2 separate regions of the Homo sapiens genome follow, and region 1 is linked to region 2. The links come from fine-mapping of genetic effects on gene expression. A gene starts in region 2. The other region holds a variant in brackets. All regions are shown on one strand. Distances are between the middles of the regions. Region 1 overlaps GAS6 (growth arrest specific 6). Region 2 holds the start of GAS6-AS1 (GAS6 antisense RNA 1).

Region 1 (11,767 bases), 22 kb before region 2:
GCTTCTCCCCAAGATTACAAAACAGTTACCTGCTGTTAGGTGTTTTCATCTGTGACCCGCCCGTAATTTCTTTTGACGTGATGGATGAGGTGGGGATCTAGACTGCAGGCTCAGTTCCTGCCCCAACACCACACATTTGAGTCTGTCTCACCCCAGTGCCTCACCTGCTGCCGTCCTCATATGCTGGGTATTTGGGAGATTTTCTGCCGGGTTTCCACAGGCCGTGGCCACAGCTTTAGACTCGGCCTCATGCACGCGGGTGGGTCTCCTATGCCCTCCTCAGTCTTTTTTCTGGTTGTCTTGCTTATTTTTTAATAAAACTAAACCTTAAAAATATTCTTAAAAACCTAAAAAAGCCCTTTAGATATTTTTAACTGGGCTTGCCATTCATATATCGGAGACTGTGTCTGAACAGTGTTGCGCTTTCCTAACCCCGGCACCGTCCTGTCCGTCCCTTGGAGCACTTTTCTTCCTGTGCGTCCCGTGCTTCCTTTGCTCAGTTCACTTCTGGCTATTTGCAGCAAAGAAGGCCGTCCTTTTCAAGGCGTCGCCTCGCTTCCTTGCATGGATGAAGAGGAGTGATTGCTACATGTTCCTTTCTGTTCCCGCCGCCCAATAGAGTTATCTTGTTTTGGTTATTTCCTTTGTGGCATCAGCGTCCCCAAGTGCGGCCAGCTGGGGAGAGGAGGGCAAGGTCAAGATCCTTGAGTTTGTTCCCTGTGTGATAGGAAGAGAATCTCTTGCTGTGGCTGGTGCCAGAGGCAACACATGCAGTTTCTAACGGGTCCACCTGCCCCAGGCCAGAAGCTCCGGCCACTCTCCCTGAGCCGGCCCTCAGAGGCTGCCCTGCCTGTGGCCTGGGGCTCTCAGCTTCTCCTCCAGAGCACGTGGCTGGGGCCTCTGATGTTCGCGTGCCTCAAAAGATGCCTGGCGGTGAAGAAGGTGCTTTGGTGGCCTGGCCACAGCAGGCAGCCTTGCACTCCCTTGGGAAGGCGCCTCCCGGAGGATGCAGCTGGGGCAGCCTCACACTCTGTTCCTGTTCATTGGTTCCCTCGTGAAAATTCTCTGACTTGGTGCTCACGGTGCTGTCCTGGCTTCAGTTCACTGGTTATCGGTCATTGTGAAATTAAAGCCATAGCCCCATAAAGTCCAAATTCAGCCCCAGACAAGCAGGCCCCCAGCGGGCCTTGCATGGGAGCCTGCGGCCCTCAGGCTGTCCCAGGACCCAGGCGGCACAGTGGACGGAGGGAGGAGGCCTGGGAAGAGTGTAGGCTGCGTTCCCAGGTGCCCCTGAAGAGCCTCTGCTTCCATTTCTTTCCTTTCCCACGGACACACCCAGCTTCTCCACTGCGAACGCGCCCGTCCTGCCATAGCGGCCACTTGGTGCTTGGATTTCTCGGCTCCTTTGACCCATGGGTTTCCCCAGGAAGGTCAGGTCCCCACAGGCGGTGGCCCAGGCAGCGGTCACTGAGCCCCGGCTACCGGGATCCCACCCCCGCCACGGGGAGTGTCCCCTCGCCCTTCCCTCGGGCAGACAGGGCTCTGGTCCTCGCTCGTCACCACCCAGGGAAAGGCCCTGGCCGCCCGCACCGGCTTCAGATTCCAGCCACAGCCACAGCCGCTCCCTCCTGTCCTTCAACGCAGTCATGGGCCAAGCTGAGATAAACCCTTCACCTCCTGAACAGGCGCTGGCGCCCAGGGCATGACCAGCCAGGCCACCGATACCCTAGGCCCAGCTTGCGGGATGGGGATCAGGGAGGTGGGCGGGGGTCAGGGAGGTGGACGGGGTCAGGGAAGTGGGTGCCCTCGGGGGCCTGCAGAGGTTTCTGTCTCCATCGCTTTCCCTGTTGTGTGGAGGAAATTCCACAGATATTTGCTGGGCACCGGCTGACTGTCCACCCCTCAGGTGTGGTTCCGTCCTTGCATCCTAGAGGTATCAATACATTCCCAACAGGGAAATAAACAAATGAGTTGGGGGAGGCCCCGGGGCAGGTGGCATGAGTCTGGGGACCGCTTAAGAGCTGGGCACCTGGCAGGAGCAGGCACTGTCCCTCAGCCTCAGGGACAGAGGTCTTTCCGAAAGGCATTCCAGGCAAAGTCAAGACCGGGTTCCCAGCCCTTTGCATCACATGGGCAGGTGTCCACTTCTGAAATGGCTTTAATCTCTAACCAAACATCGTAGCGGCAGCGCACAGCATCCCCCAGACATCCCTCCATGGTGGGGGCCTCTGAGGAGGTCAGGTTCTGGTGCCGGAGGGTTGGGCCCTGCACAGGCCGCCTGCCCTGCACGTGTCTGACTCCCTCCTGCCCCCAGAGCCTCTTCATCTGAGGCCAGGGTGGAGAAGCGGATACGCCCCTCATTTCTCTAGTTCAGGCCAGACCTCCCCGTTCCAGGCCCTGCTATGACCACATCGACGTCTCCAGACGCCCCGCGGACACAGCACCCAGGTACAGCCGGGCGACAGCAGTGTCAGGGATGGGGCCCCGGCCGGCTCCTGGCGGCTGTGCTGATGCAGAATCCCTGGTCCTGGTCCTCGTTTCCTCGTAACTCCGAAGGCCAGCCCCAGCCCCTGTGTGCTTCAGAGTAGAAAGCGTTTATAGTGACCTGCTGAAAATAGCATCTTAGAAACACTTCGAGACGCGAGCTCCGTCCACACCCACAAGTGTTCTGTTGTCAGTCATTTGTGCAAAACAAGCAAACGGAGGTGTAGGGAGGAAACTGTGGGGTGTACTGAGGAAACTGAGGCTTATAGAGGAAACTGTGAGGCAGACGGAGGAAACTGAGGTGTATGGAGGAAACTGAAGCATACAGAGGAAATTGAGGCGTATGGAGGAAACTGGGGCGTATGGAGGAAACTGGGGCGTATGGAGGAAACTGGGGCGTACAAAGGAAATTGAGGCGTATGGAGGAAACTGGGGCGTATGGAGGAAACTGAGGCATATGGAGGAAACTGTGGGGCGTACAGAGAAAATTGAGGCGTATGGAGGAAACTGTGGGGTGTATGGAAGAAACTGGGGGGCGTATGGAGGAAATTGAGGCATATGGAGGAAACTGTGGGGTGTATGGAGGAAACTGGGCATATGGAGGAAACTGTGGGGCGTATGGAAGAAACTGTGGGGCGTATGGAGGAAACTGTGGGGCGTATGGAGGAAACTGTGGGGCGTATGGAGGAAACTGGGGGGCGTATGGAGGAAACTGGGCATATGGAGGAAACTGTGGGGTGTATGGAGGAAACTGGGCATATGGAGGAAACTGTGGGGTGTATGGAAGAAACTGGGGGGCGTATGGAGGAAATTGAGGCATATGGAGGAAACTGTGGGGTGTATGGAGGAAACTGGGCATATGGAGGAAACTGTGGGGCGTATGGAGGAAACTGTGGGGTGTATGGAGGAAACCGGGGCGTATGGAGGAAACTGGGGCATACGGAGGAAACTGTGGGGCGTATGGAGGAAATTGAGGCATATGGAGGAAACTGGGGCATACGGAGGAAACGCGGGTGTACGGAGCAAACTGTGAGGCATACGGAGGAAACGCTGTGAGGCATACGGCGAAGCGTCGCAGAAAGAAGCCAGTGTGGTTGGGCAGCTTCCCCAAGAAGCCTGGGACTCGTAGCCAGGGCCTCTGGTGAGCGCGGTGCCTGGACCCGCCTAGGAGGACAGGGGCTGTGTCTGTGCCGGCCACAGGCAGTGACTGTAAGCCCTGGATGAGCTGGAGGAACTCAGCTTTGTGAACCACAGACCCGCCCGCCGCTCACCCTGGCACCGGGCACCCCTGACCCCGGCCAGGTGGGGATGGAAGCGGCTCCTGCACTGACAGCCGAGCCCAGACCCTCTGGTGGAAACGCCACATTCTACAGACCTGGTGGGAAACGTCACCTTGGGAGCCTCAGGAACAGAAGCGACACGCTGGCAGTGAGAGCCCATGCACTGAAGACTCGACGTGCCCCCACCAGGGCTGACCCCTTAGGACGATGCTGGCCCAGTGCCCTAGGGCCCTGCTGGCCCGGCCTGCACTTTTCCCAGGGACTGGTCCTTATTGAACTTGTGTGGAATCAATGGACCGGAGCCCTCTCTCAGCCAGCAGGGGGGCCCTACCCAGGGTTCCCCACGGAGCCCTGTGTGGCTAAGCTGAGCGTGGCTGAGTCCTCATGTGGGGCTGAGCTGAGTGTGGACCGCGCCCCTGAGCACTGCCATGCTCAGCCCCGAGCTGCTTCTGCTCTGCCAGCAGCCATGAAAGGATTCTTTGAGCTCCGGGTGTAATTGTCGTTCTTTCTGCCAACTTCCCGGGGCTCAGGCTTGCGTAACTGCACTGTCGGGGGCTTCCCTGCCTGCCTCTGGGACGTGGTTTGGGTCCGTGTCCTGGAAGCGTGTTTGTGAGCAGCTCCTCGTATGAATGTGTTTGTGAGCAGCTTCTCGGATGGGGGACTGCTTGGGAAGCAGCTGCACTGGCACGGGTTCCCACCCTCAGGCCCTCACCCGTTCCCCTGACCTCTGGCCCTGCAGGAGCTGAGCCCAGGTGACCACCCTGAGAAAGGGCAGAACACACCTGGCCTAAAGCCATCAAGACACGTGGAGAGGGGGCAGCTAAGCAGAAAGAGGGGGGCTTCCTGGAGGACCCCTCTGGCAGTGCAGCCTGGGCCTGGGGTCCTCCCCGCCACACCCAGCAGGGAGAGTTCACCAGAGATGGGCTAGGGGCTGGCCAGGGAAGGCAGAATGTTCCGAGTCTGCCTGGAAGCCCCCAGGTCAGCTGGGGGTTCTGTGTGCCTACTCCCTGGGAGGTCTGAGCTCCCAGGCCTCACGCCAGGCAGTTCCTGCTCCTTTGCCCTCAGCCCTTCCCACCTTGCGTCCAGGCCTGCTGGCACTCCCTCCCAGTTGATCTGAGTTTTCCTGGAGCCGGCCCCAGGGCCCGCCAGCCTATTCTGTCAGCCCTAGGCCAGCACAGAGGGCTCGGGTGCCCAGGG[G/A]CTGCCTCAGCCTGCGCCCCTCAGAGCTCCTCCGGGCTGGACCCGAGACCCCACAGCCGCCCCGATCTCAGCTGCGTTGGGCGCGCAGGGGTGGGGCAGCTGAACATGATTTTCCACTTTGTGTCCCCAATCAGACCTGCCTGACCAGTGCACGCCCAACCCCTGCGATAGGAAGGGGACCCAAGCCTGCCAGGACCTCATGGGCAACTTCTTCTGCCTGTGTAAAGCTGGCTGGGGGGGCCGGCTCTGCGACAAAGGTACGTGAGGCTGAAGACAAAGGCGGGGTCTCCCTCCATCTCCGACCCTGCCCTGATCCCCGCTCCTCACTCCCACTCCGGGGCACGGCCATCCTCAGGCTGCTCTCCGACAGCCCCAAGGAGGCTGCAGCCCTGAGGTATCCTGGAGCCCCAGGAGAATTGGGAGGAGCTGCAGTCTCCTTTCTGGGAGCAGGGCTGGAAGGAAAGGAAACACCAAGTGATGCCTCAGCACCCACTGATTGAAGGGCGGGGGGGGAAATTTCACCTCTGACCGTCCTTGAGTGCAGACCTGTGGTGTCAGTGGCACCCACTGATTGAAAGGCGGGGGGGAAATTTCACCTCTGACCGTCCTTGAGTGCAGACCTGTGGTGTCAGTGGCACCCACTGATTGAAAGGCCGGGGGGAGATTTCACCTCTGACCGTCCTTCAGTGTAGACCTGTGGTGTCAGTGAAGACCCTGGAGGAAGAATAGCTCCAGGGCCTGGTGGAGACCCATAGTGGAGAGCCCAGCAGGCCAGCCTGTCCCCTTTGGCAAATCCTACCCCACAGGTGGCCTGGGAGGGCTTTGCTAAGGAGTGGCCAGCTCTGGCCTGGCCTTGTCTGTCCTCGGCACCCAGAGGTCACTCCTGGCCTGCAGCCTCCTCCTGCAAGCACATGGGCATCCAGGGAGCTGAGCCCTGTGGGCTGTGACTGCCAGCAGCTCCCCAGGCTGAGACCGCAGCTGGGGATCCCCCATGCCCTCCCACCATCTACCTCCACACGCAAGGCCAGGACCAGGGGCCATGAAACGCTAGGGCTGCTGAGTGGGGTGTGAGGTCCAAGCCCTGGGGTCCCTCTCTGCTCCAGGGCTGGGCTGTGCACCTCTAGGATCTCTCTCTGCTCGGGGGCTGGGCTGTGCACTCCCAGGCTCTCTCCCTGCTCCAGGGCTGGGCTGTGCACACCCGCGGTCCCTTCCTCCTGCTCCAGTGCTGGGCTGTGCACCCCCCCGGCTCCTTCCCTGCTCCAGTGCTGGGCTGTGCACCCCCGGGCTCCCTCCCTGCTCCAGGGCTGGGCTGTGCACCCCCGGGGTCCCTTCCTCCTGCTGCGGGGCTGGGCTGTGCACCCCCGGGCTCCCTCCCTGCTCCAGGGCTGGGCTGTGCACCCCCGGGGTCCCTTCCTCCTGCTCCGGGGCTGGGCTGTGCACCCCCGGGCTCCCTCCCTGCTCCAGGGCTGGGCTGTGCACCCCCGGGGTCCCCTCCTCCTGCTCCGGGGCTGGGCTGTGCACCCCTGGGCTCCCTCCCTGCTCCAGGGCTGGGCTGTGCACCCCCGGGGTCCCTTCCTCCTGCTCCGGGGCTAGGCTGTGACCCCTGGTCTCCCTCCCTGCTCCAGGGCTGGGCTGTGCACCTTTGGGATCTCTCTCTGCTCCAGGGCTGGGCTGTGCACCTCTGGGCTCCCTCCCTGCTCCAGGGCTGGGCTGTGCACCTCTGGGATCTCTTCCTACCGTAGCCAGGGGCTGTGCACCCTTGGGCTCCCCTTCAGGCCTGTGCTTGTTCCCAGATGTCAACGAATGCAGCCAGGAGAACGGGGGCTGCCTCCAGATCTGCCACAACAAGCCGGGTAGCTTCCACTGTTCCTGCCACAGCGGCTTCGAGCTCTCCTCTGATGGCAGGACCTGCCAAGGTAAGGCCCTGGGGTGAGGCCTCTCTCCTCTCTCCTCTCCCCACCTTCTATTTTCGGTCATGTCTGCTCTTCTGCAAGCGGCTGCTGCTGGCTGGGTTCCTGTGGTTCTGGATGGGATGGGGCATCCTGCAGAGACTACACAAGCCCAGGCCAGCCGCAGCACAGGGAGCTGCTCGGCACCACACCAGGATGACTCACCCGGCATCTGAGGGCCAGGACTCAGGGGGCCGGCCCAGCCCATGAGGCCACACTGCTGGCTGTAGGGCCTCGTCCATTCCCCAGAGCCTCACAGAGCCTGGAAGTGCTCCAGGCACTTGTGTAGTGAGCTTGTGGGTCAGGGCTCCAGGCTAGGGTCCCCCCGCCGTCCACTCTCCCCAGCATCCCCAGAAGCACCCCGTTGTTGGTCTCCCTCTGTCCACTAAATATAGCCCTGCCCTCCCCACTTCCTTTCATATTTCAGTCTGGGGTTCCCTCAGCCCAGGGCCAGAGCTGGGGAGCCCCAGGACACCCCAGAAAGTCACTGTGAATGTGCGCGCCCCCGACGCTGTTCCAGGTGCTGCTGCTGCCACTGGCCCTTTGCCACTTTGCAGGGGGAGCACCTTCCTCCTCCCTCCCCACGTTGTATCTGGACATGCCCAGGCGTGTCCCTGAGAGTTTCTGGCATAGTTCTTAGCGCTGCTGCTGACTGTCCAGGACACCGAACTGCGTGGACAGGACAGACAGTTGCTCAGGGAGAAACAGCCCCAGGATCTGGAGAGTGAATCTGACCAGACAGGAGGGGCCACACCCCATCCCCCGATTTCAAAAGGCAGCTGCTATTTCTGTCCACTTTGGTGGTTCCCTTCCCTGACCACCCAGGAGTTAGCCCTGTGTGCAGATGACGTGATTCCCATCTTAACACATAAACCCATTTCCCCGCCGAGGACAGAGCCCCTCCCATCACTGCTCTATCCCTGACCTGGAAGACAGCAGCACCCCAGGTTTAAAGAGAGGTGAAGACTAGGCCGATCCTGAGAGATGACGTCTAAAGCATCTCCCGTGGGTCCCTGCACCAGTCGGGCACTCCCGGCAAAGTCTAGGCTCACAGTTACTGCCCACAGTGACAGAGGCATTCCCGTCCTCTCCTCCTCCTCCCCATCTTCCTCTTCCTCCCCACCATTCCCCCTCCTCCTTTCCCCACTCCCCCTCCTCCTCTCCCCACTCCCCCTCCTCCTCCCCCCCACTCCCCCTCCTCCTCCCCATCTTCCTCCTCCTCCTCATCTTCCTCCTCCTCTTTCTTCTCCTCCTCCCCCCACTCCCCCTCTTCCTCCCCATCTTCTTCCTCCCCCTCCTCCTCCTCATTCCCCTCTTCTTCCTCCTCATTCCCCTCTTCTTCCTCCTCATTCCCCCTCCTCTTTTTCCCCCTCCTCCTCCCCCATCCTTATTTCCCCTCTCCTCCTCCTCCCCCACCCCTCCCCACCCCCTCCCTCACCCCTCCCCACCCCCTCCCTCACCCCTCCCCACCCCCTCCCTCACCTCCTCCCCCACCCCTCCCTCACCTTCTCCTCTTCCTCCCTGCTTCTCCTCCTCCTCCCCCTCCGTCGTCCTCCCCCTCCGTCCTCCTCCCCCTCCGTCCTCCTCCTTCCCTTCCCCATTCTCCTCCCCCTCCCCCTCCTCCTCCCCCTCCTCCTCCTCCCCCTCCTCCCCCTCCTCTCCATCCTCTCCCTACCCCCTCCTCCTCCCCTCCTCCCCTCCCCCTCCTCTTCTCCCCCTCCCCTTCTCCCCCTCCCCCTTCTCCCCCTCCCCCTTCTCCCCCTCCTCCTCCTCCTCTTCCTCCTTCCCCTCCCCCCTTCCTCCTCCCACTCCTACTCCCCCTTCTCCTCCCCCACCTTTCTCCGTGCCCCTGCCTTTGCTCTCCTCTGGTGACTAAAGGGCTCTTCATTTCAGGGTTGCCCCTCCTACCCCAGGGTGCTTGGCCGTAAACAGCATCTGTCCCACATTAGATGCTCAAGTCTTAGGATTGTGGTTTAACCCGGTAGTGAAAATTGATTGAAACCAGTAAATGCTTCTCTTTGGGGTTGGGGTTTTAGTTTCAAATGCCCCCGGGGGGTTACTTTTTACGGCCCCGTGTCCTGTAGCACCGTCATTTAAATGGAACAGCACAGCGTGCACCGCCGCCCCCCACCCCTCCACCAAGCAGGGCCCTTCCCAGCTCTCCACCTGCTGGGCTGAAGTCAGCCTTCCCAGCCGGGCCTTGATCAGAAGCGTGCACCAACACCCCGGGAGCTGCCCGGTCAGGGGAGGAGGGCAGGGAAATGGGGCCAGGGCGCGCTGGCCCCACAGAGTCTGGATGCGACCTCTGGGTGGTGCCCTGGCCAGTCCCTGCAGCCGCCTGCCCCAGCCCCGTCTGAGATGCCGCTGTGCTGCGGTTGGCCGGTTTTTTTTTGCTTGCAGACATAGACGAGTGCGCAGACTCGGAGGCCTGCGGGGAGGCGCGCTGCAAGAACCTGCCCGGCTCCTACTCCTGCCTCTGTGACGAGGGCTTTGCGTACAGCTCCCAGGAGAAGGCTTGCCGAGGTACCCACGCCACGCGGTCACCCTCGCTTTCTCTGACGCCCAAGTCTAGACACGGGTGCCAGTCACTGCCCGAGCCGGTTGCTAACAACCGGGTGCTTCTGGTGAAAGAAAGTCTCTTTCTCCCTGTTTCTATCAGCCTGGTAATGGCCTGTGCTACCACCATGCCCGCACACACGTGAGCACACACAGGCACCCATGCCCCTTGTGCACATGAACGAACCGCACACATGCATATACACCGCATGTACACACGTGTGTACCCTTCTCCACCTGCATAGACGGGGCCTCTCCCCAAAGGGACGGGGAGCAGCAAGCCTCCCTCTACTGTTCTCTCTTTCCAGCCGCCATGGGGAGGGCCCTGTTGGCCGTAGAGCCTCTAAGAGGGGCCGTGCCCCCAGTGATGGGAACAGTGGGGCTGAGTAGGCAGACAGAGAGGGTGGGGAAGCCCAGGCTGCCTGCACTGACCTCCATTTCCCACCACAGCTGTCGGCCCCTCTGTGCTCCGGGGGACACCTCACTGCACAGCCCAGACCCTGTGCTTCCCAGACCTGCCTTCCACACCGGCCCGGCAGCGGGGGTGGGTCTGGCTCGTTGGGAGCACCCTCCTGGGACACCTGCGACATTTTTATTCCCTCAAGAAAGAGCCCGGGCAGGAGCAGGCCGAGGGTGCAACCTAGCTTTCCAGTGGGGGGGGACGCGACCCCCAAGCCGCCCCCGTTAGAATCTGCATGTAATTCCTTGAGCGCACCTTGCGTGTGGTTTGAGCAATCGCGGTGTGATCCCACGGCGGGACAGCGTAGAGGCCTCCCCGGCTCACCGCCGCTTCCCTCTGGCTGGCAGATGTGGACGAGTGTCTGCAGGGCCGCTGTGAGCAGGTCTGCGTGAACTCCCCAGGGAGCTACACCTGCCACTGTGACGGGCGTGGGGGCCTCAAGCTGTCCCAGGACATGGACACCTGTGAGGTAGGCGGCCCCTGGCCCCGCGGGCCCTTCACGGTGGTTCCGGGGGCCCTCGCCGGTGGGGGCTTTCGGGAGAAACACTTCCGTGAAGACCTGGCCTTTGCTAAGGTGTTGGGGATCTCCAGGGCCATGTGGAGGTTTGGGATGAGAAACGCTTCTGTTCCCTGGAAGATGTTTGGTTGTATTTATAGAGTCTCTATGGCAACTCCCAGCTCACAGTGGATCAGCCTGGTGTGGACCCCAGTGTGACACTCACGGGGGCACGGTCCCCACTCTGCCGCGTGCCAGGGAGCCAACGTGACCGACCTGTCACACCGGTGCCTGTCACACCGACCTGTCACACCGGGGCCTGTCACACCGGTGCCTGTCACAGCATGACCTACCTGTCACACCGGGGCCTGTCACACTGGTGCCTGTCACACCGACCTGTCACACCGGGGCCTATCACAGCATGACCTACCTGTCACACTGGTGCCTGTCACACCGACCTGTCACACCGGGGCCTATCACAGCATGACCTACCTGTCACACCGGGGCCTGTCACACTGGTGTCTGTCACACCGACCTGTCACACCGGGGCCTGTCACAGCATGACCTACCTGTCACACCGGGGCCTGTCACACTGGTGCCTGTCACACCGACCTGTCACACCACTGCCTGTCACACTGACTTGTCACACCAGTGTCTCACACCGACCTGTCACAACAGTACCTGTCACACTGACCTGTCACACCGGTGCCTGTCACACCACTGCCTGTCACACTGACTTGTCACACCAGTGTCTCACACCGACCTGTCACAACAGTACCTGTCACACCGACCTGTCACACCGGTGCCTGTCACACCACTGCCTGTCACACTGACTTGTCACCGGTGTCTGTCACACCGACCTGTCACACTGGTGCCTGTCACACTGGTGCCTGTCACACCGACCTGTCACACCGGTGCCTGTCACACCGACCTGTCACACTGACCTGTCACACCGGTAGGAATGCAGTACCCACATGTGGACGTTTCTGGGCAGGGCGGCTCTTGTCTTTCCTCTTCAGCCTGGGCCTGTGCCTGGGGGTTGATGAGAGTGAGCATTTATTTAAAAAGCAAAACCACAGGTGGAAAGAGTCACCAGGACAGCTTCTCGGAGTCGCAGACCTGGGATGCAGCCGTGGGGCTCTTGGGTCTGGGCTGCGACGTTCAGGGCTTCCAGCCAGCCCTCGCCTTGAGGTTCTTTGCCTCGCTGCCTCATGTACTCATGCAGAGGGTGTCGGACCCCTGCGAGATGTCCAGCTCACCCTGGCTGCCCACGGTGGGCAGGGCAGGCCTGGCTCAGCCCCAGCCCCTCCATCTTCCAGGGGTGTCAGCTCACACCGGCTTTGGT
Region 2 (11,767 bases):
CAAGTGCAGCCTCGGTCTTGTGTGTGCCTGGTGCCTGGGGCTGGGGTTGACCCTCTCACACCCAACCTGGGGGCCACACTTGTTCCCCCACAGCCTCCCAGGCTGGCCCCTGGCTTTACGTGCAGAGAAGCTGAGCCCCAGGTGGGGTGGGGGTGTCATCCACAGTCAGCGAGCATCCAGACCCAGGGCTGCAGGGAACCCTGGACGGAGACAGGCGTGCGGCGTAGGGGTGGCCAGCAGCTGTGAGGACCAGCTTGGACCTAACAGCTCACGTAGGGGTGGCCGGCAGGCCCTGACCACACCTCGGTCTCCTGCAGCTGGTGGTCCTGGCCGTGGAGCATACGGCCTTGGCCCTAATGGAGATCAAGGTCTGCGACGGCCAAGAGCACGTGGTCACCGTCTCGCTGAGGGACGGTGAGGCCACCCTGGAGGTGGACGGCACCAGGGGCCAGAGCGAGGTGAGCGCCGCGCAGCTGCAGGAGAGGCTGGCCGTGCTCGAGAGGCACCTGCGGAGCCCCGTGCTCACCTTTGCTGGCGGCCTGCCAGGTAGGTGCTCCCTGCTCCGCTCAACCCGGGTGAAGAGCTCCAGGGAGGCCCAGCTTGGTCACCCCAGATCTAACCTGGACAGGCTGGGGTTTCTGGTAGTGAATGCGGAAGAGGACTTGTGTTTTAAGAGGAAGGAGAAGTCCAGGTGGGTCGTTAGTGGCTATTATGGTGTCTCGGTGCTGGTCAGGTCATTGGCTGAGACTGAGAAACACGTACGGGGGCCGGCATTGGCCTGAGTCAGGCCCCACGAACCTGCATCTTCAGGGAGCATTCGTCCACACCCATCAGACCAGCCCCGGGGGAGAGGGCTGGGCAGACCTCGGGCCAGGCTGCAGTTGGGACCCGCGGCTGTCACCGCAGCTGTTAGCAGCGAACAGAGTGACCGCCAGCCCCTCCCATGTCCAGCAGGGCGTCCTGCCGTGTCCCATGGGCTACACAGCACAGAGGCTGGGACCGGGGATGTCCTTGCCATGAGCTGGGAGGGTCAGCGGAAAGGCACGTGGGAGCCGGCAAGTCCTCGGCTGCCCGCAGGTTTTCACTTGCGGCAAACGGCAGGATTTCTCTCTTGGCTGCCAGACACAGACTCCACTTAGTTTTAATAAACAGAGCTTTGAAGAGGATGAGAGCGAGCCAGGAGGCCTGCAGCCTGAATGACTCACTGGGCACAGAAGAAGATCACGTTTAACCGATGGGACTGTCTGTGCTCCCAGCGGGGAAGGGAGGGCTGGCGTCTGCAGAGCCCAGGCTGGCAGATGCCTCCTGCTTGTCTGCCGGGTCTGCGGCCAAACGAACGGGGACCGAGAAGTTAGAGAAGAAAGGGAAACCCTGCCCTTTCGGAGGGAACCCGGGGCTGGCCACAAGCGCTGCCGGGGGTGGGGGGGCCAGGCGGGGCCGGCCACGTGGTGAGCTAAGATATGTTGTTCTCTCCCTGCGGCCCAGATGTGCCGGTGACTTCAGCGCCAGTCACCGCGTTCTACCGCGGCTGCATGACACTGGAGGTCAACCGGAGGCTGCTGGACCTGGACGAGGCGGCGTACAAGCACAGCGACATCACGGCCCACTCCTGCCCCCCCGTGGAGCCCGCCGCAGCCTAGGCCCCCACGGGACGCGGCAGGCTTCTCAGTCTCTGTCCGAGACAGCCGGGAGGAGCCTGGGGGCTCCTCACCACGTGGGGCCATGCTGAGAGCTGGGCTTTCCTCTGTGACCATCCCGGCCTGTAACATATCTGTAAATAGTGAGATGGACTTGGGGCCTCTGACGCCGCGCACTCAGCCGTGGGCCCGGGCGCGGGGAGGCCGGCGCAGCGCAGAGCGGGCTCGAAGAAAATAATTCTCTATTATTTTTATTACCAAGCGCTTCTTTCTGACTCTAAAATATGGAAAATAAAATATTTACAGAAAGCTTTGTAACACCGCGTGGCCGTCATCTGCTCCCCGCGGGGTTCTGCACACGTAGCAGCGTTTGGGATGAGCGGGGCTGCCAGGGCTCCAGGCCGCACCCTCAGCCGCTCCAAAGATCCCTCCCTCTTTTCTGCTCCCAGCCTGGTTGGGCAGCCACGGTCTGCTCCCCAGGAGCCTCTGACTCCTCTGGTAGTGGCGGCAGGGGCTGGAGCCTCAGTTTACTTGTTCTGTAAATGCGGAGAACGCCCTGCTCGGCCCCCACCACAGGCAGCCAGTCATTGCTGAGTGAGGAGGGCTTGGCACACAAATGCAGGCTGCTGGGGCAGCGGCCTCTGAGCCAACCTGGGAGGGACCCCGAGCTGGGACCGAGGGCCGGAAGACACCGAGGCAGCGCCTGCACCCCTGTGCCATTCCCGTCCCCACCCTCCTGCACAGATCCACTTGCTTCCGGGCCTCAAGTGTGTTCTGTTGAGAAAGGGAAACTGCTTTCTCTGTGTCGGTCTGGGGTAGAGCTTGCCAGGAGCAAAGCCAGCCCTGCTTCCCGCGTCCCCACTGGCAGGGTCCCCATGTCCCTCAGCCTCAGCTTCCTTGTCTGCAAGGGGTGGAGCGGTCACTGGTGCTCTCTGACCCCAGCAGGCCACAAGTCTGCAGGGAAGGTCAGGGCAGCCGGAACGCGGCCAGGCAGGTGCCTGAAATGCAGTCGGGACCCTGCCTGCCTCCTGGAAGGATGTCGGAGCCGCAGCTGGTGGGGGCCACGGAGTCACTGCTTCTCCTTGGTCCCAAGGGGACGACCAAGACTCATGGCTTGACGCTCCCGTGGGACGCGGCCACCTGTGCTCGAGCCTCTGGGCCAAACATGGGTCCCCAGGGTGGATGCGGTCACTGCAGGGGCCACACGGGGGATCAGGGAGGGTTTCAGCTCTGAGGCCCAAACCAGGATTCCACTTTAAGACCAAACCCCCACCCGTGCTCGGAGCTCCCTGGGCAGGAGTGAGACGGGGCAGCTCGGAGCAGCCCCACCTCCCACCAGTCAGTCCCAGAGCTGCGCCCACCGGGCAGGACAGGCTGTGCGTCGGGGCATCTTTGCCTCTGCCTGGCTGGGGTCAGCACTTGACCTAGAGAAAAGTCGGGTGGAGAAGAAGGATAGAATCCATGAGAACCCATCCAGGGATAAATCGCCACAAATGAACTGCAAAGAGGTTTCTAGAAAGAGGCCTGTGGCTTTGAAGGCCACAGGGGAGGCCCCGCTGGCTGGACTGACAAGGTGGCATCGGCCGAGTGGGCTCCTGAGGGGCAGCCTCGGGCCGGGAAGGAGCGGCTTCCCTCTGGCCCCCGGCCTGACGGCTGTGGAATGGGCAGAGCTTCTCCAAGGCTCGGGAGCCAGCAACACTCATGCCCACCTGGAGGGACCCTGCCCGCCTGGGCCGAGCTCACCCCACGGATGGACGGCCAGCCAGGCACCTTGCCAGGGGCCATGCACAGGGGGCCCCATCCCCTGCCGTCCAGAGCCGCCCAGCTCGTCTACGCTGGAGCCTCCAGGCCCTGGTGGTCCCTGAGGGTCCCTGGCAGGCCCACCCTGTGTCTCTGGGGCTCTTGTTGACCGGTGCCAGTTATGGGCTCCTCGGGCCACATCCCATGACCCTGCGCCATCGTGGGCATGATGCCACTTGCTCTGGACACGCCGGGCAAGGGCCTCTTGTTCTCCCCAAAATCTTGGCAGCACCTGGGCAGAAGTTCTGTTGATTGAGGGCTGCAGCCTGAATTCAGGACTTCAACCTAGTCTAAGAGGTATTGCAGGCAACTTTCGCTTCGGTACCGTGAGAAAATAGTGACGGGGGAGGCCCTGGCCTCAGAGGGCAGACGTCAGGCTCCTGCCGGCTCCCTTCGGAAACGTCCATCTGCCGCCAGCGGCCCCGCGTGTGTGTGACGGCTCTCGCCAGCCTCGCCCAGCAGCACGTGGACCTTCCGCAGGCAGATGCGCTTTCTCCACTCGGGCCGGGACAGATGGCCACCGGCTGCTCACACGGTCGGGGACCCGCAGCCCAGGCCTCCACGCTGGCTCCGGGATGTCCAGGTGCTGGTTGGGCTGAGGATGGTCGGGCCCAGGGCTCGGATCTGGCCATCAGCACAGAAGCCCAGTTCTGGGAGGCCCAGGCGTGGATGCTGACGGCTCGCTAAGCAGGCCAACTCGTCTGACCCCGACGATGCCAGAGCCAGCTGAGCAGAGCTCCAAGAAGCCCGTGGAACACAGCCCCCTGGGCCCCAGGAGAGCCCTGCACTGCCCACTGCACGGCCTCACACGGCCACAGGGGCCACAGCCGCACGCTGGGATCCCAGGCTCCAGCCCGGCACCGCGGCGTCCCTCAGATCCCGGCCTCCAGCCCGGCACCGCGGTGTCCGTCAGATCCCAGCCCGGCACCGCAGCGTCCCTCAGATCCCGGCCTCCAGCCCGGCACCGCGGCGTCCCTCAGATCCCGGCCTCCAGCCCGGCACTGCGGCGTCCGTCAGATCACATTGGTGGGTGCCCCCCAGTGCTCTCCCATAATGTTCCCCAGCCGGCTGGGAGCCTGCTCCTGCCCAACCTCCATCCTCCCCAAGTCAAGACGGCCAGGAGCAAAAACAGGCAACGGCCAGTCTCAGGGACAGAGACGTGGGGAGGCCCCCACAGACACAGGCTACAGTCACCAGTGTCCTCAGGACACAACCCTCCGCCTGGGTTTCTGCTCTGCCTCCAGACGAATCAGGAACTTCTGTTTCCTAGTATTGTTTTCTTAGAGTTCCGGGGGTGCCAGAAGTTATAATAACCACTGTCCCAAACAAGCAAAACCAATGGTGCTAGGAATTGCAACACAGAGGCCCAGCCAGGCCTGTCACGTTGGCGACCTGGCACCCTCCACAACCAGGCATGTCTGGGGTGTGCAAGAGGATGGGAAGACAGAGCACGTGGTGCAAGTGCTGGTGCCCTGGGGAGGCAGGAGGGATGTGCCCCTTAGAGGGAGGAGGGATGTGCGCCCTGGAGGGAGGAGGGATGTGCCCCCTGGAGGGAGGGGTGATGTGCCCCGTGGAGGGAGGGGGGATGTGCCCCCTGGAGGGAGGGGGGATGTGTTCCCTGGAGGGAGGGGGGATGTGTCCCGTGGAGGGAGGGGGGATGTGTCCCGTGGAGGGAGGGGGGATGTGTCCCCTGGAGGGAGGGGGGATGTGTCCCGTGGGGGGAGGGGGGATGTGTCCCGTGGGGGGAGGAGGGATGTGTCCCGTGGAGGGAGGGGGGATGTATCCCGTGGAGGGAGGGGGGATGTGTCCCCTGGAGGGAGGGGGGACAGCCCTGACTCTGGGCTGGAGAGGAGGAAGGAGGTTGGGCATGTGTTTTGCAGGTGGGGTCCTTTGATGTGGCCGCGTCCTGTGCACAGCAGATGCAGCATCGCCCCCTCCTGGACACCCAGCCTCATGACAACACGAAATGTCTCCAGAGGTTGGCCACTGTCCCCTGGGCCCGGGCACCTCTGGGGAAACACTGCTCTAAGCAAGAAGGAACGTTTCGTCCTACTTCACGTAATACGGCAAATATGAACATCAGATTTTTAAATGCCAACGGAAGCATAAAGCAAATGTACAGCCGGGCTAATCCCAGCACAGCCCATTTGTAGGAGAAGCTCCAGCCACAGCCCCTGCCTGCAAAGCAAGAAGGGTCACCTGCCCCAGGGTCAAGGACTCCACGAGGGGAGAGGGGGAGGGTCCGCTCCATGGTGCCCTTGTTTCAAGCACGTTTTCTGCTTACTGAATTCCATCAGTTAAAAGGTCTAGGAAACAGAAAAGGAAGTGGCGCGTGTCGCCGTCTGAGGATCTGCTGACGGGCCCCGGCCTCGTGGAATCCTCTTCTGCCTCTGTGGGTCTCCAGAGTTTCGGAGGCATCTCTGCTCCCACCGCGGGGTCTGGTGGCCACGGGGTCCCCAAGTCTGCAGGAGGAGCTGCTCTGTGTGGCGAGGGTGATGACCATGGCTCTTGTTCACTGAGCAGGGCCGGTGGCCAGCACTGTCCAAGTCACCAGTGCAGCCCCATAAGGCCATCTTCACAACATCCTTGGGGCCCGTTTCTCCCACTCCCGTTTCCATGGAGATGTGATTCACACAGCAATAGCCACGCCTCATGAGTGCAGAGCATGGGTCGGTGGTCAGTCCATCCACGGGGCCGTCCACCCATCACTGCCATCTGGCTCCCGGACACTCCTCTTCCCACAAGAACTCGTGTCCCTGACCAGTGACTGCACCTCTCCCCATCCAGAACACGCTTAGAACACACTTGCCTCCCCGAAAAGAACTCGTATCCCTGACCAGTGACTGCACCTCTCCCCATCCAGAACACGCTGCAAACACGCTTGCCTCCCCGAAAAGAACTCGTGTCCCTGACCAGTAACTGCACCTCTCCCCATCCAGAACACGCTGCAAACACGCTTGCCTCCCCGAAAAGAACCCGTGTCCCTGAGCAGTGACTGCATCTCTCCCCATACAGAACACGCTGCGAACACGCTTGCCTCCCCGAAAAGAACCCGTGTCCCTGAGCAGTGACTGCACCTCCTTTCCCAGTCGGCTTCTGTCTGTGGACACGCCTTCTCTGGACACTGCATATAAACAGAACACAGTCTTCATGTCTGGTGTCCTTCCCTGAGCACTGTGTGTTACAGCCTCAGCACCCGTTAGAGCTTCCTTCCTCTCCGTGGCCGGGTGACCCGCGTGTGGATGGGCCACGTCCTCTCCCTCTCTGTGGCTGGGTGAGACCCGCGTGTGGATGGACCACTGTAGTATTCTGTTTTCACACTGCTAATAAGGACATACCCGAGACTGGGAAAAAAAGAGGTTTAACGGGACTTACAATTGCACATGGTTGGGGAGGCCTCAGAATCACGGTGGGAGGCAAAAGGCACTTCTTACACGGCAGGAGCAAGAGAAAATGAGGAAGAAGCAAAAGCGGAAATCCTGATCAACCAGTCAGATCTCGTGAGACTTACTCACTATCACGAGAATAGCACGGGAAAGACCAGCCACCATGATTCAATTACCTCCCGCTGGGTCCCTCCCACAACGCGCAGGAATTCTGGGAAATACAATTCAAGTTGAGATTTGGGTGGGGACACAGCAAAACCATATCACCCATGTCCCTTCCTCTCTCCGTGGCCGGTGACCCCATGTGGACGGACCGTCACCCATGTCCCTTCCTCTCTCCGTGGCCGGTGACCCCACGTGGACGGACCGTCACCCATGTCCCTTCCTCTCTCCGTGGCCGGTGACCCCACGTGGACGGACCGTCACCCATGTCCCTTCCTCTCTTTGTGGCCGTTGGCCCCATGTGGACGGACTGTGTCCCTCCCCCACTCAGTAGTTGCCTCTGCTTGGGAGCTCTTGTGAGCAGTGCTGCTGTGTGAAATGTAGAAACTGAGGCAGGAGGAGACTCCCTGTAACCCAAGGTCCCAAGCTAATAAGGTGGGGCCAGTCTCAACGGACCCCTGCCCAGGGCAATGCTCTGACCCTGCCCTCCTCAGTCACAACCTGCAGCTACACTAGGCCCCCACCTCTGAGCTGCAGGAGAAGCCTGTCTCCTGTGCTGTCCCAGTGAGGCAGGGAGTGCAGGTGGGGCCACAGCACCCCAAACCCCCCAGCACCCCCTGCCCCGGGGCCACAGCACCCCCAAACCCCCCAGCACCCCCTGCCCCACCATCCCCTCCACCCCATCTCCCGCGGCCTCCAGGGTCTCACTGACCTCGGCTGTGCATGGGAACCAAGTGAGGGCGGGATTGGGAGCCCATCCCTGCAGAGGAGGCTGGGATCAGAAGGCCCCAGCGGAGCCCAGAGAGGGGGTTCATCAGACCGTGACTCAGGCTGGCAGAGCTTGGTGGCCCCAGACAGGATCCGTCCACATGAGACAGGTGCACCTCGAGAGCAGCCGCCGCCCACACTGCAGGCCAGGCATTGGCCGGAGCCCTGCGCCAGGTGGGAGCTGCCCTGGGACCTGGGGGACCCTCCAGCCACCACGAACCTTGAGTCAAATTGTTCACATTCTTTGTGGCTGGGATAAAGGATAAGGACATTTTTGTGGCAAGAACAAAACTGTTGACCTTGGAGTTGAATATTTTTGAACAGCTTTTGACTCTAGACAAGATTAAAAGTCGGGAAAGATCGATGTTGTGTTTGGGGGAAGCTGGTGAGTGCAGCCTCGGGGAAGCACTCTGATGCCCCCACACCGCACCCTGCGACCGAGGGCTGACATGAGGGGAAGGAGGGTTATTCCTGTGACTTTGCTGGCCAGAGCTCCAGGGGGCATAGACTCCCTGCCCAGACCTGCAGTTCAGCTTCTCTGCTGTTCGCACCCCTAGGACACCAAGAGGTGCTGGTGCCTGCACCAGGCAGCTTCGGGGGCACAGCCCGAGCTCCAGGGTGCCCAGGAACCGCCCACACAAGACCACGGCACCATCGGCGCCCATAGAGCCTTCCCTGAGGTAAAGTGAGAGCCCTGGGGACTCGGGAAATCCGTGGCACACTTTTCTTCCCCCACAGGCGCTCGTGAGTGCATCTCCCGGCGCTCCAGAAACCTCTTGGTCTCTGCTGCTTGTTCAGCTTCTTACTCGGAGCCAGGCACCCACAGCCCTGGAGGAACTGGGCGGTGATTTCCAGACAGGACGCCGCACCTCCGGCTCGTGCCCGACCTCCCGGACTGGTTCAAGGCCAGTCAGCCCTGAGAGGCCAAGACCACATTCTCCTGGACAGCAAGCTTGTGAGGCTGGATTTTATAAGATAAAAATGACAAGCAGTGGCGGGTTCACAGACCAGAGCTGGCTGCAGGCCTTTCAGAGGCCCGTTAGGGCCCCTGGGCCCAGCCAGCCACCGTTCATGTGTGGATGTGCGCTGTGGGCCTTCTGCCCAGGAGCGCTGGACACAGGATGAGACCCTCCGTCGGGCAGAGGGAGGCTCCCGGGCAGCGGAGGGGGCAGAGGCTGTGTGAGACCCTCCATCGGACAGAGGGAGGCTCCCGGGCAGCAGAGGGGGCAGGAGGCTGTGTCTGCACGAGTGTGGCTCCCCTCCACCTTATCTTTTTTCTCCCAGATCCAGGACTGGGCAGGGGAGAAAGTCCCCGCTCCACCTCCCAGGTGGGCACTGTTCCGTGAAGTAAGCTGGAGACCTCAGACCCACACGGGAGAAGAGCGGTACTTGTTTATCGTAGGCACGGGGGGCTTTGCAGGGAGGGACGTGAGGCCCTGAGAGCGGTGAGGCCTGGAGGCGCCAGCTTCCGAGGGGAGAGGGAGTGACTGGGGAACCGTGAGCGGCCCACAGAGCAGAGACGGCGACTTGGTGTCTTGTGGCACGTCTGGGGAGCAATGGGATCACCTCTCGCCCGCCCTCCCGCCCTGGGAGTCCCTGGTTCCCTGAGGATCTGACTTCAGGAGTTCAGAGAAAGCCTCTCCCCACATCCAACACTTTTCAAGAGACTTCGGCTACTTTGGGGTGGCGCATCCTGAACTCCTGTCACTGGGGCGCCTGTGACCCACCCGGGACCCGTGACCCACTCGGGACCCGTGACCCACCCGGGACCCGTGACCCACCCGGGGCCCGTGACCCACCCGGGACCCGTGACCCACCCGGGACCCGTGACTCACCCGGGGCCTGTGACTCACCCGGGGCCTGTGACCCACTCGGGACCTGTGACCCACCCGGGATGCCTGTGACCCACCCGGGACCTGTGACCCACTCAGGACCTGTGACCCACCTGAGACCTGTCCTGTGACCCACCCGGGGCCTGTGACCCACCCGGGACCTGCTGCTTCCCAGGCGTGCTCACCCGTCTCCCCAGGTGTGCCCGGCAGGTGCATGCTGGGCCCGCGGGGAGCTAAGCTGGTTTCCACAGGGAGTGCTGCGGCCCCAGACCCTGAGCCAAAGGACCCCGAAACACCGTCCCCCACCATCCCAGCGGCCAGGGGTCCTGAGACAAGGTGCGGTGAGGGAGAAGCCGCGGAAGGACAGCGGAAGCCCAGGCGCCGTAGCTGGGAGACAGCTCAGGGGAAGACCCTCGTGCCAGTGGCCCAGGCAGATTTGCATCCGGGGCTGGGAAAGACAACCGGGCCCCTGGATTCTAACAACTCACAGGCGGTTAGACACAGCGCTGGGCGTTGGAGCCGAAGCGTCCTTCCCTTCCTGGCATACGTCAGGAGCACAGCACGAGGGGCGGGTGGCTTCTGCCCTGCGCTTCTCCAGGACACAGATGCACACACGAACGTGTAACGCACAACACATGTCCACAAACAAGAACACACAGGCAGGGAGGCCGGGGCTGCACTGTCTTTGCAAAATCATAATAATAGCTAATTAATTAAGGGATGTGAAAACACCAGAACAATTGCTCTCAGAGGAGGAGGCCGGGTGGGAACTTTCAGCGCCATTTGATGTGAGCAGAGCCCAAGCCAAGGTGTCACCAGCCTGGGTCTGGAGGGCCCCACTCCCTGCCTGGTTCCAGCCTCCCTCACCAGTGTGCCCAGGGAGGAAAGGAGGGGACAGACTTCTGGAACATTCTCCCGGGTTCTCTAGGAGGTTGGCCACAGAAGCGGGATTTCTAGAGGCTGCCTTTTTTTTAAAAAAAAAAACAAACAAGTTATCTTTTACTCCACGCCTCTATCAGGGTGCGTAGGGGGGTGGCTTCTCCCCCGGGGGAAAGTAGGTGGGTGCGTAGCACGGTGGAGCCTGGCCGGGAAGCCCAGAGCCAGAGCTGCTTGGAGAAGGGGGCTGCAGGTCCTCAGACGAAGCCAGGGCAGAGGAGGGCGCAACTGGGAAGCGGCTGCAGGGCTGCAATAAACAGAGAGGGCCCTGGGTTAGCAGGTGAGACCACCCCGTGCCGGACCACAGGGAAGCCTGACATATACCAGGGCCACTCACACGCTCCCCACCCACCCCGCCAACCCAGGGCCACCCGCAGACTCAGGGCCATTCACATGGGCCCCCCGCAGACCCAGGGCTATTCACACAGGCCCCCTCAGACCTAGGGCCACTCACACAGGGCCCCCCGCAGACCCAGGGCTATTCACACGGGCCCCCCACAGACCCAGGGCTATTCACACGGGCTCCCACAGACCCAGGGCCACTCTCACGCCCCTCCCCTCCCCCGGAGACCCAGGGCCACTCTTACGTCCCCCTCCCCCACCGCAGACCCAGGACCTCTCTCACCGGCCCCCACCCCACAGACCCAGGACCACTCTCACCGGCCCCCCCACAGGCCCAGGCCCACTCTCACGGGCCCCCACAGACCCAGGACCACTGTCACGGGCCCCCACCCCACAGACCCAGGACCTCTCTCACCGGCCCCCCCCACAGATCCAGGACCTCTCTCACTGGCCCCCACCCCACAGACCCAGGACCACTCTCACGGGCCCCCACCCCACAGACCCAGGGCCACCAGAAGGAGCAGCCCCAGCCCGGGGCAGAACAGGAGAGGGTGGCCGGGGCCTCACTGGCACAACCTTGGCCTCCACAGCTGCATGGGGCAGGGGGTGGACGCCCCAGGAAGGGTGTCCTCAGACCACATCCCACTTCCTCACAGCCAGCGAGCCTCTGACCTGACTCCAAAACCAACAGTTAGGGTCCACCAGGCCTGGGGCCCCTGGGCTCACCCAACTCTTCATATTTGGGAAAGGCCCCACGTATGAACCCCACACGTCCACACGTCCAGCAGCGTGTGGCTGGTTCAGTGTCACCGTGGCTGACTCAGCGGCTCACACACGCATCTGGGTGTTGCCGTGGAGGCATCTTCAGGTGTGATTGACACCCTTGCGTACAGTGCCTCAGCCC

The links.
Region 1: its variant is fine-mapped to the expression of GAS6-AS1 in atrial appendage (GTEx, PIP above 0.99). The same link has a PIP of 0.9 or more in fibroblasts, left ventricle and transverse colon.

What each region holds. Positions count from the first base shown.
Region 1 is chr13:113,833,179-113,844,945 of GRCh38, reverse strand. GAS6 (growth arrest specific 6) reads left to right here. Exons shown (of 15, transcript NM_000820.4): 5 at 5,096-5,218; 6 at 6,755-6,877; 7 at 9,311-9,433; 8 at 10,274-10,395. It overlaps GAS6-AS1 (GAS6 antisense RNA 1), which reads right to left. Exons shown (of 5, transcript NR_044995.2): 2 at 11,367-11,454; 3 at 10,182-10,262; 4 at 6,699-6,869; 5 at 2,105-2,577. Among named protein-coding and RNA genes, the nearest start is that of GAS6-AS1, 23 kb to the right of the region's middle. RefSeq lists enhancers at 4,939-5,515, 5,687-6,239, 6,895-6,954, 6,794-7,346, 7,455-7,664. The variant G/A (reference allele first, on the strand shown) is at 4,962.
Region 2 is chr13:113,810,737-113,822,503 of GRCh38, reverse strand. It overlaps GAS6-AS1 (GAS6 antisense RNA 1), which reads right to left and starts at 6,894. Exons shown (of 5, transcript NR_044995.2): 1 at 6,813-6,894. TMEM255B (transmembrane protein 255B) reads right to left here. Exons shown (of 9, transcript NM_182614.4): 9 at 5,509-10,768. The coding sequence ends at 10,601. It overlaps GAS6 (growth arrest specific 6), which reads left to right. Exons shown (of 15, transcript NM_000820.4): 14 at 318-546; 15 at 1,486-1,955. The coding sequence ends at 1,640. It also overlaps LOC124903220. RefSeq lists enhancers at 264-812, 1,362-1,911, 6,471-6,590, 6,651-6,890, 6,941-7,010.